Linked DNA regions of Homo sapiens. The protein of the gene in region 4 purifies or fractionates together with the protein of the main gene of each other region. This does not show direct contact. Each region holds a gene or a part of one and is shown on either strand. Other genes may lie near its edges.

Region 1 (4,024 bases), on a different chromosome or scaffold from region 4:
GCGTATGTCACAGAGTGGGGACAGTCTCTTTTCCTAAAGGGGTCCATCCTACCTCCACCCCCTCCCCCAACACATACATTCCTTCCTTCCTGTTGCTTGGAAGCCCAGGGATTGCCTGCTCCGGGCAGGGCAGCTGGGCAGGGCAGCTGTGCAGGCGGAGGGGATTTGGTGGGGGAGGAGGGAGGGAGGACAGCAAGTGCCTTGCAGCCTCACTGGAACATCAGAGCAAAAAGCCGGGGACCCTGCACGGGTCGTGGAGAGAAGGGTAGGGGACAAGCCAAGTGCCTGGGCTTCCCTGAGCTGGGAGCGGCAAACCCCCAGCCACACAGCTGGCTAGATTTGGGCTGGGACATTCAAGCCACATTCTCCACAGGTCCTGGCTAGCCCCAGTAAGGCCTCTTCACTCCTGCTCCCCGCCACCAGTCCCCTCACCCCTCTCCAGTCCCCAAGATTAGCAGGCAGCACTGGAATCTCTGAACACGGAGAGGAATTGCTTTCGGACCAATCCTTGGTGGAGATGGAAGACACAGCTGCCCTGGCCAGGAAGCAAAGAAGGAGAGGACGCGCTTTCTTTGAGGGGGGCGTCCCAGAGCCTGTTGGTGCCCTTTTGGGTCACGCCAAAGGGCACTATCACATCCTCACAAGACACACAGGAGATGAGTTCTGTCATCCCCCACTTCACAAGAGGAAACTGAGGTTCAGAAAGTGAAGTAACACGCCTAAGGTCACGTTCAGCCGCAGGGGAGAAAGCACACAGGCTCCAGGATTAGAAGTCCTCTCGGATCCCACCTTGCATCTCCTCTGGGGTGGGACATTCCAGTCCCCACATGGGCAGGAGTGCTGCCTGCCCTGGCTACAGTCAGCCCCTCCTGAGCCCTGGCCCCAGGGAAAGGTCCCACCACCTGCTGGGGGATCAGCTCTGCTAAGGGGCGTGTCTGCAGCTGCCCCTAAGGAATGGGACTGGAATGTCCCAGCTCCAAAAGGGGGGGGTAGTAGGCAAGGGGGGCCCAGAGAGGGGCTGGGAGAGGCTGGCCCACCCCATCCCCTCTGTGACAGACACTTGAGGCAGAGACAGGGGCTAAAGCCTGCGGAAGTGGTGCTTAGTATCACCATATAGTGCTTCACGGCTGCACCGCAGTCTACAGTTTTTTCTCAGCCCTTCTATTTCATTATCTCATTTCATCTCCACAATAGCCTCGTGGGGGCAAACAGGACAGTAATTACCCTCACGCCATTTTACAGATCGGGAAACTGAGGCCTCGGAAGGCGAGGTGAGTTATCCAAGATCCCACAGTGAGAAGCAATCTCAACTCCCTGGGCAAGGTCCTTTCTACCTCAGCAGGTTGTCCTAAGCCAGGGGTCACGGGTTCCCCTCCATGGGCACACACTGCTGTGTATGTATTGCATATATGTCTGCCCAGCCCTCCATGCCTGTTTCTCCCAAGGACACTTGCAACCAGGCTGCCCTAGACTGCGGTCCACCAGGCCTGGAATCCCTCCTGCTGCCCCCCAGGTCAGGAAGAAATAGAGGAAACCTGCCTCATGGGGACTCCGAGTCGCTATGCTAGCTCTAGAGGCGGTGGCAGAGGCAGGCTGGCCGCATTCATTCACAGTCTGGCACATGCACACCACACGCTGCCAGCCGGTAGAGAAGCCCTGCCTGGGAGGGCCCTGGGAGGAGGCTGATAACCGCGCCCAGGATGGCCTCCTGCGTCCGCTCCCTCCCGAGGACAGCCAGGCCCAATCTGTTCCTATGTGGTTGGGGTCGGGGGGTGGCCCAGTGGGAGGCAACGGGTCTCAGTTCTCTTTCTGGATACAGCCAGGGCCCTGATTTCGGCTTGTCCCCAGGCCAGCCCTCACTTGGGCCAAAGGCTGTGGCCGGGACTGGACCGGGTGCTCTGGCGGTCAAGACCTAGGAATGTCCCCTACCCGCAGACCCGCAGCTGCAGCCTGGTGGACCGGCAGGGGGTTGGGGGATAAAGGAGGTGTGGGAGGAAGCGAGAGATCTCATGGGGAAGTCAGAGGGGCAAACGAGGTTGCATCCCCACGGAATTTGTGTCAGGAAAGCAGGGGTGAAGGCGAGGGTTCCCCAAAGCTGCGGGAGGTCCCGGAGCTACCTGGGGGGCGGGGTGGGAGGCGCGTCTCCTCCTGGCCCCTCCCTGAGGCCTGCCGGGAGCGGCTGGGCCGGGGGGCGGAGGCCGAGGTCAGACGCCGGCGCCAAGGACGCCTGCCCCACCCAGCCGTGGCGCAGGGGTCCCGCGCGCTGCTCCCTGGAAAGCGCGTTTGCAGGGGTTGGGGAGAGCAAGGTAGCCTGCCGCCTGCCCCTCCAGCGGAGCATCGGGGTCGGTCCCCGATCCGGTGCCTCGGTGACCGGGAGCAGGGGACACCTGGGCGCACGCCGCACCTTGCCACCCCCGCCCATCTCTCAGACGGGAGCCTCGGCCAGCGGGACAGCAGCTTTGCCAAGGACGCCCGAAAACAAGACCTTGGCGACCCGCCCCACCCCTCCCCACCCCCCGAGTCCAGCCCGGGTCCCCAGCCCCTCGCGCGCCCCACTTACCATGGTGGCGACGCGCTCGCCGGCCCGCGGCTCCGCAGCCCTTGCGCGTCGCAGCTCCCCCGCGCGGATTTGAACCCTCCTGCAAGGCGTCGGCTCGGGCCGGGACTGCGTGCCGGGTCGGAGCGGCGGAGCGGCAGGCGCCGGGAAAACGCGGGCGGGCGCCGGCGCCGGAGCCGGATTGGCGAGGGAGGGACGCGCTCCGCGGCGCTCGATCGCCTGCCCCAAAGGCGGAGGGAAAACCCGGCCTGACTCACCGGCGCGCGGCAAGCCCACAGCCCGGCCCCGGCCCCCGGATGTGGGGGGCGGGGCCGCCTACCCGCGAGCCAACCTGGGCCCCGCCCGGCCCCGACCGCGCCCCCGGCCCTGACCCGCAGAGGCGCCGCACGGCGGTGGCGGGCGAAACCTGGACCGGCTGCGCCTCGCGTCGCTGCCTCCTTGAGCGCCCCGGCTCGTTCCCGAGGGGTGGGCAGCCCCGAGCGCGGCCCACGCCCCAGAGAGCGCACAGCGCCCCCGCTTCTCCTCCTCCGCCGTTCGCCTCGCCCGCCTCCTCTAAGGAAGAGGCGCGTGAGGTCCCTCACCTCCCTAATTGTAGCCGCCTCCTCTCCGGAAAACCTGATTTCCCCCCTTTGGGGATGAACCACAGTAGTACTTTGAGAAGTGAAAAGATTTTACCCCACGACTCTGGCTGAATTGGGCACAGAGTTATTTTCTTTTTGCCTCCAAAGTATTCTAGGGGCAGCAAAATCAGGTGCCTTCAGGGGCCAGAAAAATTACGCAAATGAGTCGTGAGCTTCCTACTAAGACAGTAGGAAGACATGGAAACAGACACAGACACGTAAAGGAGTCATATTCGAAAAATTAAAACACCGTTTCTAATTCAAAAGTTAAGCATAGAGTTACCATATGATCCGGCAATTATAGTCCTCAAACAAGTAATGTTCTTGGCAGTACTAGTCACAATAGTCAAAGAGCCAAAAGGTGGAAACAGCCCAAACTAACAATTGATGAGGGTGTAAGCAAACAATGGTAGATCCATTCAGTGGAATATTATTCAGCCATAAAAAAGAAATGAACGCCATGTGATGACTCATGTCTGAACTCTCCCAGCACTTTTGGAGGCCAGGAGTTCAGGAACAGCCTGGGCAACTCACAAAACTCCATCTCTATCTTAAAAAAAAAAAGACCTGATGTGGTGGCTCACCCCTGTAATCCTAGCATTTTGGGAGGCCGAGGCAGGCGGCTCACTTGAGGTCAGGAGTTTGAGACCAGCCTGGCCAACATGGCGAAATTCTATCTCTACCAAAAACACCAAACATTAGCCAGGCATGGTGGAGCGAGCCTGTAATCCCAGCTACTCGGGAGGCTAAGGTAGGAGAATTGCTTGAACCCAGGAGGCAGAGTTGCAATGAACGGAGATTGTGCCACTACACTCCAGCCTGGATGATGGCGTAAGCCTGTCTCAAA
Region 2 (3,500 bases), on a different chromosome or scaffold from region 4:
ACATTTTGGTTGAGAGAGCAAGACATCAAAATCATTATTCAAGTGGGGAGGAAGAATGCTTGGAAATTTGTGCTGATTCTTAAGCAAGGACTTTGCAAGCAGAGAAAATAAAGCTCAATGTCAGTTAACAAACAAATGTGCTATTTCAAAAGATATAAAATAAGAAATCTAGAAATTTTATATTCCTAGATTTATTTATTATATTTCTATATTTCCTGGACAGAGCCCAGGAAATGAACCCAGATCCTTCTTGTAAGGCCCTTCCAAGCTGTGTTGATTTATTTCAGCTTGACTAGACACTGAACAAATTAGCAACAGCTTGTGTTTTATGACATGCTGCAAAGAAACAATGCTATCATTCCAAGTGTTACTCTGAAGATGCAGAACCAGAGAAGTTACTGCTATGGCTCTTGGTACACTTAATTTTCTTCCTACAGAAATGCCCTCACTCAATCTGCTGAAGGCTCACTATTATGTGTTTAAGGTTAGCTTTTCATATAACCTAGATTCACTCTTAAATTCCAAATTGCTTATATTCCTAGTGGCAATACAAGACTGCTTTTACATTAAAGGCCCCTAAAAACATTTATCTAACTCAAGTTATGCAAATTTCAAAAAAGTTAACATTTTTTAAATTTACAATTGTTTTAAATAAGTTTAAAAATATGGCCGGGCGCGATGGCTCACACCTGTAATCCCAGCACGTTGGGAGGCCAAGACGGCGGATCACGAGGTCAGGAGATTGAGACCATCCTAGCTAACACGGTGAAACCCTGTCTCTACTAAAAATACAAAAATTAGCTGGGCGTGGTGGCGGGCGCCTGTAGTCTCAGCTACTCGGGAGACTGAGGCAAGAGAATGGCGTGAACCAGGGAGGCGGAGCTTGCAGTGAGCCGAGATCGCGCCACTGCACTCCACCCTGGGTGACAGAGCGAGACTCCGTCCCAAAAAAAATAAAAATAAAAATAAAAATATAAGAAAAATGCTCCAGTAGACTGATGGAAATGGCAATAAAATCACTTTTAAGTAACTGTTAAGACTGAAAAAGAAGACTGTCCTTTAGTAGCTAATAAATCTGACAGCCAGGAGCAGTGGCTCATGCCTGTAATCCCAACAATTTGAGAAGATGAGGCAGGAGGATCACTTGAGCCCAGGAGTTCGAGACCAGCCGAGGCAACATAGTAAGACTCTGTCTCAAAATATATACATATTATATATTATACAATATATAGTTATAGATTATATATATGTGAGATTTTACATATATTTACATATTTTATATGAATAAGTATATAAATAAAAATAAAAAATAAATCTGACAATTACAATTTTTATCCAACAGCAATGAAAGCACCACAAAAAGATGTTTCAAAATGAACTATCAAGAAGGGAGGTAATTCAAAATGACCACAGAGCAGAATCATCCAGGCAAAATATTACAGCAAAGTTATTACTTACACAGTCACAGTCTAAACTCTAACTGTTCTGTCTGTTAAGCTTAAAATGTAAAGTCAGGACCTTTCACAGATTTTTGAAGCCAGGAAATTGGTCTTCACTTATATACTAAAGAAGTCAGCAGTGATCACCTTCTTAAAACTCAAAGGACAGTTGAGTTCCCTGGGCTCTTAGGCTCAGATTCTGCCCTCAGAAAAACAAGCACTCACCTGACTTTTACAAGTCACAACCAAGTTTGCATGCAAGAGAGAAAAATTAATTCTTTTGAGTCTTAAAAACAATGGAACAACACTTTCCTTCAAGCCAACGAAAGGCTTTCTGTAAGAAAGCCCTAAGCAACCTGAAGGCATTTTGGCCCCCAGTCATCAGAGCACTGAATAAGGACAATTAATTTGCCAAGCTCCAAGACCAGAAACCATAGCCTAGTAGGGAGTAGGAGGTTATAAGTGTTTGTTGAATTACTCGAGTAAACTAGAGCAAAGCATAGAAGACTAAATGAGATCCTAAATAAATGCCACTCTGTAGTATAAGCGCAATGCTAAGATTTAAAAAGAAGGGACTCAACTAATTTTGAAAGTTATTTTAAAATAGGATCCATGGGACCCTAACGTAGTAAATGAAATAAAGGTAAATCAATACTACATAATATGGGGCCGGGCACAGTCGCTCACGCCTATAATCCCAGCACTTTGGGAGGCCGAGGCGGGTGGATCATGAGGTCAGGAGATCAAGACCATCGGGGCTAACACAGTGAAGCCCCGTCTCTACGAAAAATATAAAAAATTAGTCGGGCGTGGTGGCATGCACCTGTGGTCCCCGCTACTCGGGAGGCTGAGGCAGGAGAATCTCTTGAACCTGGGAGGCGGAGGTTGCAGTGAGCCAAGATCACTCCACTGCACTCCAGCCTGGACGACAGAGCGAAACTTTGTCTCAAAAATAAATAAATAAATAAATAATAAAAAAATACTACATAATACGCAAGAAACAAGAAAGGAAACTGGCCTACAAAACTACAGACAAAAATTGAAAACCTTTTTTTTTTTTTTTTTTGAGACAGAACCTCGCTGTCTGCCAGGCTGGCGTGCAGTGGCACGATCTCAGCTCACTGAAACCTCCACCTCCTGGGCTCAAGGGATCCTCCCACCTCAGCCTCTGGAGTAGCTGTGATTACAGGTGTGCACCACCACGCTCAGCAAATTGTTGTATTTTCTGTAGAGATCAGGTTTCGCCATGTTGGCCAGGCTGGTCTCGAACTCCTGACCTCAAGTGATCCACCTGCCTCGGCCTCCCAACATGCTGGGATTACAGGCGTGAGCCACCACACCCAGCCAAAAACTTTTTTTAAAAGTCAAGTTTGGCCAGGCACCGTGGCTCACGCCTGTAATCCCAGCACTTTGGGAGGCTGAGGTAGGCGGATCACAAGGTCAGGAGATCGAGACCTTCCTGGCTAACACGGTGAAACCCCGTCTCTACTAAAAATACAAAAAAATTAGCCGGGCATGGTGGCGAGTGCCTGTAGTTACAGCTGCTGGGGAGGCTGAGGCAGGAGAATGGCGTGAACCTGGGAGGTGGAGCTTGCAGTGAGCTGAGATTGCACCACTGCACTCCCGCCCGGGCGACAGAGCGAGAGACTCCATCTCAAAAAATAAATAAATAAATAGATAAATGTCAAGTGTGATTTTTTCAAGCATATTCTTATTGTTTATGTTTACAAGTATGAGTATTCATAGACACATCACACTTATACTAGTATCAAATATGATACATCTGAACTACTACTATACTTGAATATTAACGTAAGCCTCTGAGGAATTCACAGTAATAGAACTGCTGTTATTTAGGATTACTGATCCCCTATTGTCTTGCACTTAGAAGATGTTAATGAAAGATGATGACAGGATTGTGAACACACCAACCTCCCTGAGAACAAATTCATTATATTCAGTTTTCTACAAAACACAAATGAGGATCATTACAAAAGGATTCACAACAAATTCCTCTGGATTTCCATTTCTCCCAGGTAAGTTGAAATATTATTCAAACCA
Region 3 (3,500 bases), on a different chromosome or scaffold from region 4:
AGAAAAAGAAATATTGGGACAGGAAGCTTTTTTCTCACATTGTGTAAACTAGTGTGCGAAATTAAAAAGTATGGGAGGAAAGAGGAAATATGGCATGTACTGAGCGCTCAGTAGGGTGATAAATGTTTTACTACTCATTAGCTCATTTAATTGTATTCTGTACAACTCAGTAAATTTGATCTCATCTCCATTTTACAAATGAAGAAACTCAAATTTAGTAAGGCTACTTAACTTTTTAAAGACACACTGCTAGGAGGGGTAGAGTCAGAATTTAAACCAAGATATTTTCTAGACTTTTAATCTCCAGGGATTTTTTTAAGTAGGTAAAGTGCTCCCCCAATGTTATAGGGGATCATGGATGAGCGAAGACAAACTGATGCTGAAGATGAGATCAGCAAACAGTAGCTCCTGGTCCAGATGACCTGGAGAAGGAGTAGGCATAGGATCTAGACCAGGGTTGTTCAATCTTTTGGCTTCCCTGGGCTACATGGGAAGAAGAATTGTCTTGGGCCACACAAAAAATACACTAACAGTAAAGATAGCTGATGAGAATGAAAAAAAAATGTGTCGGGCTACATTCAAAGCCATCCCTGGCCATGGGTTGGACAGACCTCAACAGGCACATGGATTCCCTATTGGGGAGGGTCTAGAATTCTAGGCTGAGGAATTTTCACCTTTATTCCTCTGGTATGATTTCAACCTGTGGTGTCACCATTTTTAAATGTATTGCCATATCTTGAACATTCCCACTTGTTCTGTCTACAATAAATCTTGACTGTGGGGTTTGCTTTTCCCTATCTCAATTAGGGAGTTGCAGAATGCAAACTTTTTTTACTCTACGTCTGTGAAAAACAAAGAAGACATATATATATTTATTTACTTCATTTTAAAAAGACCAAGAAAAATAAAGTTTGATTTTCCACCATTTCTTTTTGCTATGTAAATTTGCCTTTATTCTGGAGTAAATAATTAAGATTATAAAATAATCAAATTATGCTCACCACACTATCTGGAATGTCTTTTTTGCTTCTCAACTTCCAGGAAGTTAAAAAAGTAACAATTCCTCAAAACCCAGAGCTAGTTCTAGTACCCATTTGGACATCATCATTCCTTCTTGTGAACCTTTTTTACAGCATTTTGTACATGCCTTAGTACCTTATCACACCCTGCCTGGTCTCTTGTTGTCAGCAGCTTTCTAAGATGGAGTGAAGCTCACTCTTCACTGTCTATACTGTGTACCAATGAATAACATTTTTGCACTGAGCATCTAACAAAGTCACGTAATTTAATAGAATGACTCAATAATTTTTTTTGCATGGTACAGTATGCTTCCACCACTTTCTTTTGCTTAGGATAGAACATCATCAATAAATGGGGATCTATTTTCCCAAACTTCACCTTCTAGTCTGCTCTCCCTCCTGCCCGCCACTTCTCCTTTGTGGTTGGGGTCTTTTTCTTTAACCTTTAGGATGGTCAAGTTCAAGCCAGAGAGGCAGAAAAGTTAGTCTAGGTACCACTGAGGGAAGCTGAGTTTCTGGCTCTCTTTCACAGTGTCCAGGAGAAAGACAACCCCAAATAAGGTGCAAAGGGTGAGACTCTACTATTTAATTTTCATAACCTATAGGATAAAATCATATTCATTCATACAAATCACTATGGCCTAATTTTCTATTATAAATCTTCCTAATAATATGACAAGGTCTCAGCAGCCATATTTCTCGTCAGAGAAAGTAATGAACATACTAAAAATAGTTTACTCTCATTCTGATTTAAAATAGGTGCATCATGTCATTCAAACTACATCTGCTTATATTCTATCCATATGTTTGAAGGCTAAAATAAGTAACAAATCATTAAAAAGAGTTTTTGTTTTAAAATTGTTGGCTCAAAAATAGTTACATAAAACATACTTCATAGCTGGCAATGCAGACATTCTTAACTTTTGCCCTGAGTAAATAATATTACCTCTGTTGATCCTGTGAAGGCTACTTTGTCTATATCCATGTGAGAAGAAATGGCTGCCCCTGCTGTAGGCCCATAACCAGGAACAATATTCACTACTCCAGGAGGAAACCCTGCCTAAAAGATAAAAAGTTTAAAAGTTACAGTATAAGAATTTAATTCAAAAAGGAGGAGAGTAGGGGATTGAGATTGTCTCTTAATGCCAACCTTATGAGATGCTCTAGAAAAAAATAATTCACCCAACTGGCTCTATTCTTTAGTCTTATTATGTCATTTCTAAGCACACATAAGAGAATAACTTCAAGGGTTGCATTATTAAAGGACAATTTCTTGTCAGGGTAAGTCCATACTCTATGAATCATTGCTCCAGTGATGGCTCTTTCAAATTTCATAATGCTAACTCAAAAAGATTGTATGTAAAAAAGTGTTTGGTAAGTTACTTATGTAGAAAGTAAGTAACATGTTTATTATTCCCATCAGCAAAAATAAGAAGCTGAAGGGATCTAACATTTTTTAGTTCCTAGCTGTTGTTGATTGTTGAGGGCATAACTGCTGAGTTGCAAATTCCCATTGGCATTACTTAGTAAATTGTTAAGTAAATACTGTCATCCCATTCATGATTCAACATCACAGGTTGATTTCAATCTTCATTAAAGAATTCAGGTGAAGGCATGGGAACTGAGTTGGGCACATTACAATTTCATGTTATTTGCATCGAAATGTTTCATTTTGACATCTCTTTTCCCTGTTTTTAATTTCAATAAATAATATCTTTAAAAGATAAGTTCAGTTTTGTAACTTTAAGTTTCTAGTGATTAACATTTATTTTTTAAGATTTGGTAAGATGAAGAAAAAAGGACAATGAATTGTTTGCAAGTATATTAACACAATCTAGATAGCTGATGAAAATGTTTTACATGTTCTTTTACTGTTTTTGAACAGGAAGATAAATGCAGAGGAACTCATAATAGAAAACTGAATATAAACATATCCACTCATGAGTAGATTGAAAAGTGTTTGGAAATAATGTGGCCCAATATTACAAACAAGCATATTGGCATAGAGGCCCTTTCAACCTTACATAGATTAGTTTACACAATTTTGCAGAAAACACTAGGCCATCAGTGGCAGGTACAAACCAACTTAATGTTTCAACATTTGAAAGAATGCTACATTAATTTCAACATGAATTTATGTTCATGAGAGTTGGACAAAGAAGCAAAAATGTGATCCCAAGTTGACTGTTTGACACCAAACCTTTGTGTTTGGCTTCCTGTCTGCATTTGGGCAGAGATGAATTTGGGGTGACTGCCAGAAATTGCAGCCAGCCGTCATGCTAAATGTATTCCCCCCACTGGACAGGAGCCATCTGTAAATAATGTACTTTATAGTAGCAACAAATGAGGTCTTCCTATTGTAATTTAGGATTCTTGAGTTCTTGAGCATATTTTGATTTCGGGAGACTTACCTCTTTTATTAAAGATGCCACGTGGAGAGCAGTGAGAGGAGTTTGCTCTGCTGGTTTGACAACCACTGTG
Region 4 (4,127 bases):
TGCCCAAGCAGGCTGCAGGCCCAAGGAGGAACAAAGATCCTCTCAAGGGGTGCGGAGCTGAGGTTCCGGTCCTGCCAAAGCCACTTGATGACCCCCAAGTGCCCCCCTTTCTGCACCTCAGAGAAGAGCCCTCAAGCCTCCCAGGTCCCCTCCAGGGGCACGAATAAGCCCCAGCAGGGTTCTGAAGGGGTCCCAGGAATCTCCCTGTGGGGATGCGGTGGAGGTGGAGGAGGCTGCGGTGGCCTGGGGACATCTCTGGTCACAGGTGCTGGTGGTATGAGAGATGGGGTAGGCACCAAGCCCCCTGCAGCTGTGGCTAGGCGGGCCTGCAGGAAGGGCCAGGCAGGCTCCTCAGGGACCACAAAGAACAGGGGTTTTCACACCTAGGTGGGCCTGCATCTAGCTAGGACAGTCCCCATCAGGCCATAATGGGCACAGTGGGAGGTAGAACCATGAGTGAGAGAGGGGAGGCTTCCAGAGGCCTGGCCTGGGTCCCTGCTAGATTGAGGGCTCTGGCTATGGTACATGGATATTTCTGCTGTGGAATCAAAGGAGCAGGGGATGCTGAATATCCCCTCTGGCCCTATGCCCTGCTACCTGTCCTTTCACGGAAGGGTGTGTGTGTAGGGGGTGCAGGACCAGGCCTCCCTGGGTGCATCTCTGCCACCTTGCCCTTTGGCTCAGGTGGACCTCCACCAGGTATTCAGAACTCCAGCCCAGAAACGCGCCAAGCCTGTGGGGCCAAGACCTAGGGGGTGGGGGTGGCCTCCCTCCCGCCTGTAGCCAAAGGGTCCTCCCTTGCCCAGCCAGGCCCCGGTGTCGCTTACTGCTCTTATCCACCCCTCCTTCCCAGGCCGGTCCTCAAGGCCCCAGCAAAGGAACCAAGTTCCCGTGAGCCTCCGAAAGGCGAAGGGCAGGCAGCAGCCGCTGGCTTCTGCGCCCACTAGGAGCTTCGGATGCCCGAGTTAGGGCTGCGCCAAGGCGGCCGGAGCAGAGAGGGAGACGGGGACGGGGACAGGCAGGGACAAAGTGCAAGAGGCAAAACTGGCTGAAAAGCAGAAGTGTAGGAGCCGCCAAGGGGCGGGACGAACAGGTCCGTGGGCCGGGCGGAGCCAAGGGTGGGGGCCGGGGTCCCTCCAGGTGGCACTCGCGGCGCTAGTCCCCAGCCTCCTCCCTTCCCCCGGCCCTGATTGGCAGGCGGCCTGCGACCAGCCGCGAACGCCACAGCGCCCCGGGCGCCCAGGAGAACGCGAACGGCCCCCCGCGGGAGCGGGCGAGTAGGAGGGGGCGCCGGGCTATATATATAGCGGCTCGGCCTCGGGCGGGCCTGGCGCTCAGGGAGGCGCGCACTGCTCCTCAGAGTCCCAGCTCCAGCCGCGCGCTTTCCGCCCGGCTCGCCGCTCCATGCAGCCGGGGTAGAGCCCGGCGCCCGGGGGCCCCGTCGCTTGCCTCCCGCACCTCCTCGGTTGCGCACTCCTGCCCGAGGTCGGCCGTGCGCTCCCGCGGGACGCCACAGGCGCAGCTCTGCCCCCCAGCTTCCCGGGCGCACTGACCGCCTGACCGACGCACGGCCCTCGGGCCGGGATGTCGGGGCCCGGGACGGCCGCGGTAGCGCTGCTCCCGGCGGTCCTGCTGGCCTTGCTGGCGCCCTGGGCGGGCCGAGGGGGCGCCGCCGCACCCACTGCACCCAACGGCACGCTGGAGGCCGAGCTGGAGCGCCGCTGGGAGAGCCTGGTGGCGCTCTCGTTGGCGCGCCTGCCGGTGGCAGCGCAGCCCAAGGAGGCGGCCGTCCAGAGCGGCGCCGGCGACTACCTGCTGGGCATCAAGCGGCTGCGGCGGCTCTACTGCAACGTGGGCATCGGCTTCCACCTCCAGGCGCTCCCCGACGGCCGCATCGGCGGCGCGCACGCGGACACCCGCGACAGTGAGTGGCGCGGCCAGGCGCGAAGGGGCGGGGGCGGGGGGCAACGGCCGCCGGGCCAACCCGCTCAGTCACACTCTGAGACCCTCGGCGGGCACCTGCTCGGGGGCCCCGGGAACCGGGGCGGACTCGGGCTCCGGTCCCTTCTGACGCGGGGCTGGGGACGCAGACACTCTTGGCTCCGGCAGCCCAGCGCAACCCCTGAGGTCGGGCGCCGCCTCCCGCCTTCAGAAACTCGGGCTCCGAGCGCCGAATTCCAGCGCCTTCGCCCGTGGGCACAGGGCGCGCGGTGCAGCCACAGGGGGCCCGAGACACGCGCCCCGGCCTGGCCCAGGCTGGGGAACCGCTGGGGTCGGGCTCGCGTCTGAAGGTCCGGGACTGGGTGCGGCCGCCGGGGGTCCCCTACACAGGCAAGCTAATCTGAGCTAGCGCAGGCTTGGGCTCCGGAGGCCCTAGAGGGCAGCTTGGGCTCTGGAGGCCCTTGGGGGCGGCTGCGCCGGGAACCCTGGCCCTTTATCCCCAACCCCACCCCAGAAATAGGGTCCCCGGAGGCGAACAAGCCGAGGGGCGGAGTGGGCCAGGGATCACCTGCCCCGCAATGACCTGCGCCCCGCCCCCAGGCCTGCTGGAGCTCTCGCCCGTGGAGCGGGGCGTGGTGAGCATCTTCGGCGTGGCCAGCCGGTTCTTCGTGGCCATGAGCAGCAAGGGCAAGCTCTATGGCTCGGTGAGTACCGCAGGGGTCTGGCTAGGCACCTAGTTGGGAACAGCGGACATGGCTAGCAGGCTCGTGGCTTCTCCAGCCCCACCTGTGCCTGGGTCTTGGAGGGGTGGCAGGGTCACCAGGTCACGGGACCGGCAGGCCTCCCCAGACAAAGGAAGCAGCCCCAAGGCAGGAACAATGAGGTTCCTGCCATCCCTGAGTGGGCCCCTCCCAGACCGAGGAAAGGGCGCTATTGAGAGCCCTTCCCTTCTCTAGTCCAGAGGGGTAGGTCTCAGTGTTGGAACTGCGGGCTTGAGGCTGGACACGGAGGGAATGAATTCTCTGGCTGCTAGGTGCAGGGCAGGTGGTGAGAGCACCAGCTGTTGTGGGCTGGCCATGTCCCCTTCTCACCCTGTGTGGGTCTTGACACCTTAACTGCTCAGCAGAGACATCTCAGCCCAGGGTGGGGGGTGGGACAGAAGGGGGTTCTGACCCCTGGCTTCAGGCTGGGTACCTTGCCCAAGAGGTGCCCCAGCCCTGACACTGCCCTGCTTTGCTGCAGCCCTTCTTCACCGATGAGTGCACGTTCAAGGAGATTCTCCTTCCCAACAACTACAACGCCTACGAGTCCTACAAGTACCCCGGCATGTTCATCGCCCTGAGCAAGAATGGGAAGACCAAGAAGGGGAACCGAGTGTCGCCCACCATGAAGGTCACCCACTTCCTCCCCAGGCTGTGACCCTCCAGAGGACCCTTGCCTCAGCCTCGGGAAGCCCCTGGGAGGGCAGTGCCGAGGGTCACCTTGGTGCACTTTCTTCGGATGAAGAGTTTAATGCAAGAGTAGGTGTAAGATATTTAAATTAATTATTTAAATGTGTATATATTGCCACCAAATTATTTATAGTTCTGCGGGTGTGTTTTTTAATTTTCTGGGGGGAAAAAAAGACAAAACAAAAAACCAACTCTGACTTTTCTGGTGCAACAGTGGAGAATCTTACCATTGGATTTCTTTAACTTGTCAAAAGTTGTCACGAGTGTGCTGCTATTCTGTGTTTTAAAAAAAGGTGACATTGGATTCCGATGTCATCCCCTGTAGTATGGCGTGGAGCATCTCTGTCTGGAAAGGCCCGCCTGAGGCTTGGGCAGCCAGTTCAGGGAGCTCCCAGGCTTGGCTCTCGGCTAGCATCCTCAGAGGCCCACTCCCTTTGTGCCCTGTTGCTATTAATCGGGACATATCGGTTTACTTCGGGTACAGAAAGTGCGGTGTTGAAGTCCTCGCTGCCACTCTGTTTTTAGATCTGCCAAGACTGACCTTTGAACTTTCCTGTAGTCAATCTTCCTCGATCTACCAGATGGGAGAGACCCTTGGACAACTTTATAAACTCCTGTTTGCCTTTTTTGGATCAGCGACAGCCCCCATCGCTGTGACTATTGGGGAAAAGACGAAGCTCTTTCATAAATTCCATGGAGAGGAATCAATATCCCACTGGAAGGCTAGAAATGGAC

Evidence for each region. The genes of interacting proteins can lie anywhere in the genome.
Region 1: the proteins of FGF4 (region 4) and N4BP3 purify together in Homo sapiens (affinity purification with mass spectrometry; one large-scale study listed by BioGRID and IntAct). This does not show direct contact.
Region 2: the proteins of FGF4 (region 4) and TGFBR3 purify together in Homo sapiens (affinity purification with mass spectrometry; one large-scale study listed by BioGRID and IntAct). This does not show direct contact.
Region 3: the proteins of FGF4 (region 4) and ALDH1A1 purify together in Homo sapiens (affinity purification with mass spectrometry; one large-scale study listed by BioGRID and IntAct). This does not show direct contact.

What each region holds. Positions count from the first base shown.
Region 1 is NC_000005.10:178,112,308-178,116,331, reverse strand, and holds the start of N4BP3 (NEDD4-binding protein 3), read right to left. Parts: upstream 2,801-4,024; 5' UTR 2,561-2,800; intron 1,567-2,560; exon of another isoform or gene 1-1,566.
Region 2 is NC_000001.11:91,879,652-91,883,151, forward strand, and holds part of TGFBR3 (transforming growth factor beta receptor type 3 isoform a precursor), read right to left. Parts: intron 1-3,500. UniProt on the Homo sapiens protein: Cell surface receptor that regulates diverse cellular processes including cell proliferation, differentiation, migration, and apoptosis.
Region 3 is NC_000009.12:72,922,054-72,925,553, forward strand, and holds part of ALDH1A1 (aldehyde dehydrogenase 1A1), read right to left. Parts: coding exon 3,431-3,500; intron 2,080-3,430; coding exon 1,966-2,079; intron 1-1,965. UniProt on the Homo sapiens protein: Cytosolic dehydrogenase that catalyzes the irreversible oxidation of a wide range of aldehydes to their corresponding carboxylic acid.
Region 4 is NC_000011.10:69,772,542-69,776,668, reverse strand, and holds the start of FGF4 (fibroblast growth factor 4 precursor), read left to right. Parts: upstream 1-1,327; 5' UTR 1,328-1,584; coding exon 1,585-1,924; intron 1,925-2,541; coding exon 2,542-2,645; intron 2,646-3,183; coding exon 3,184-3,360; 3' UTR 3,361-4,127. UniProt on the Homo sapiens protein: Plays an important role in the regulation of embryonic development, cell proliferation, and cell differentiation. Required for normal limb and cardiac valve development during embryogenesis.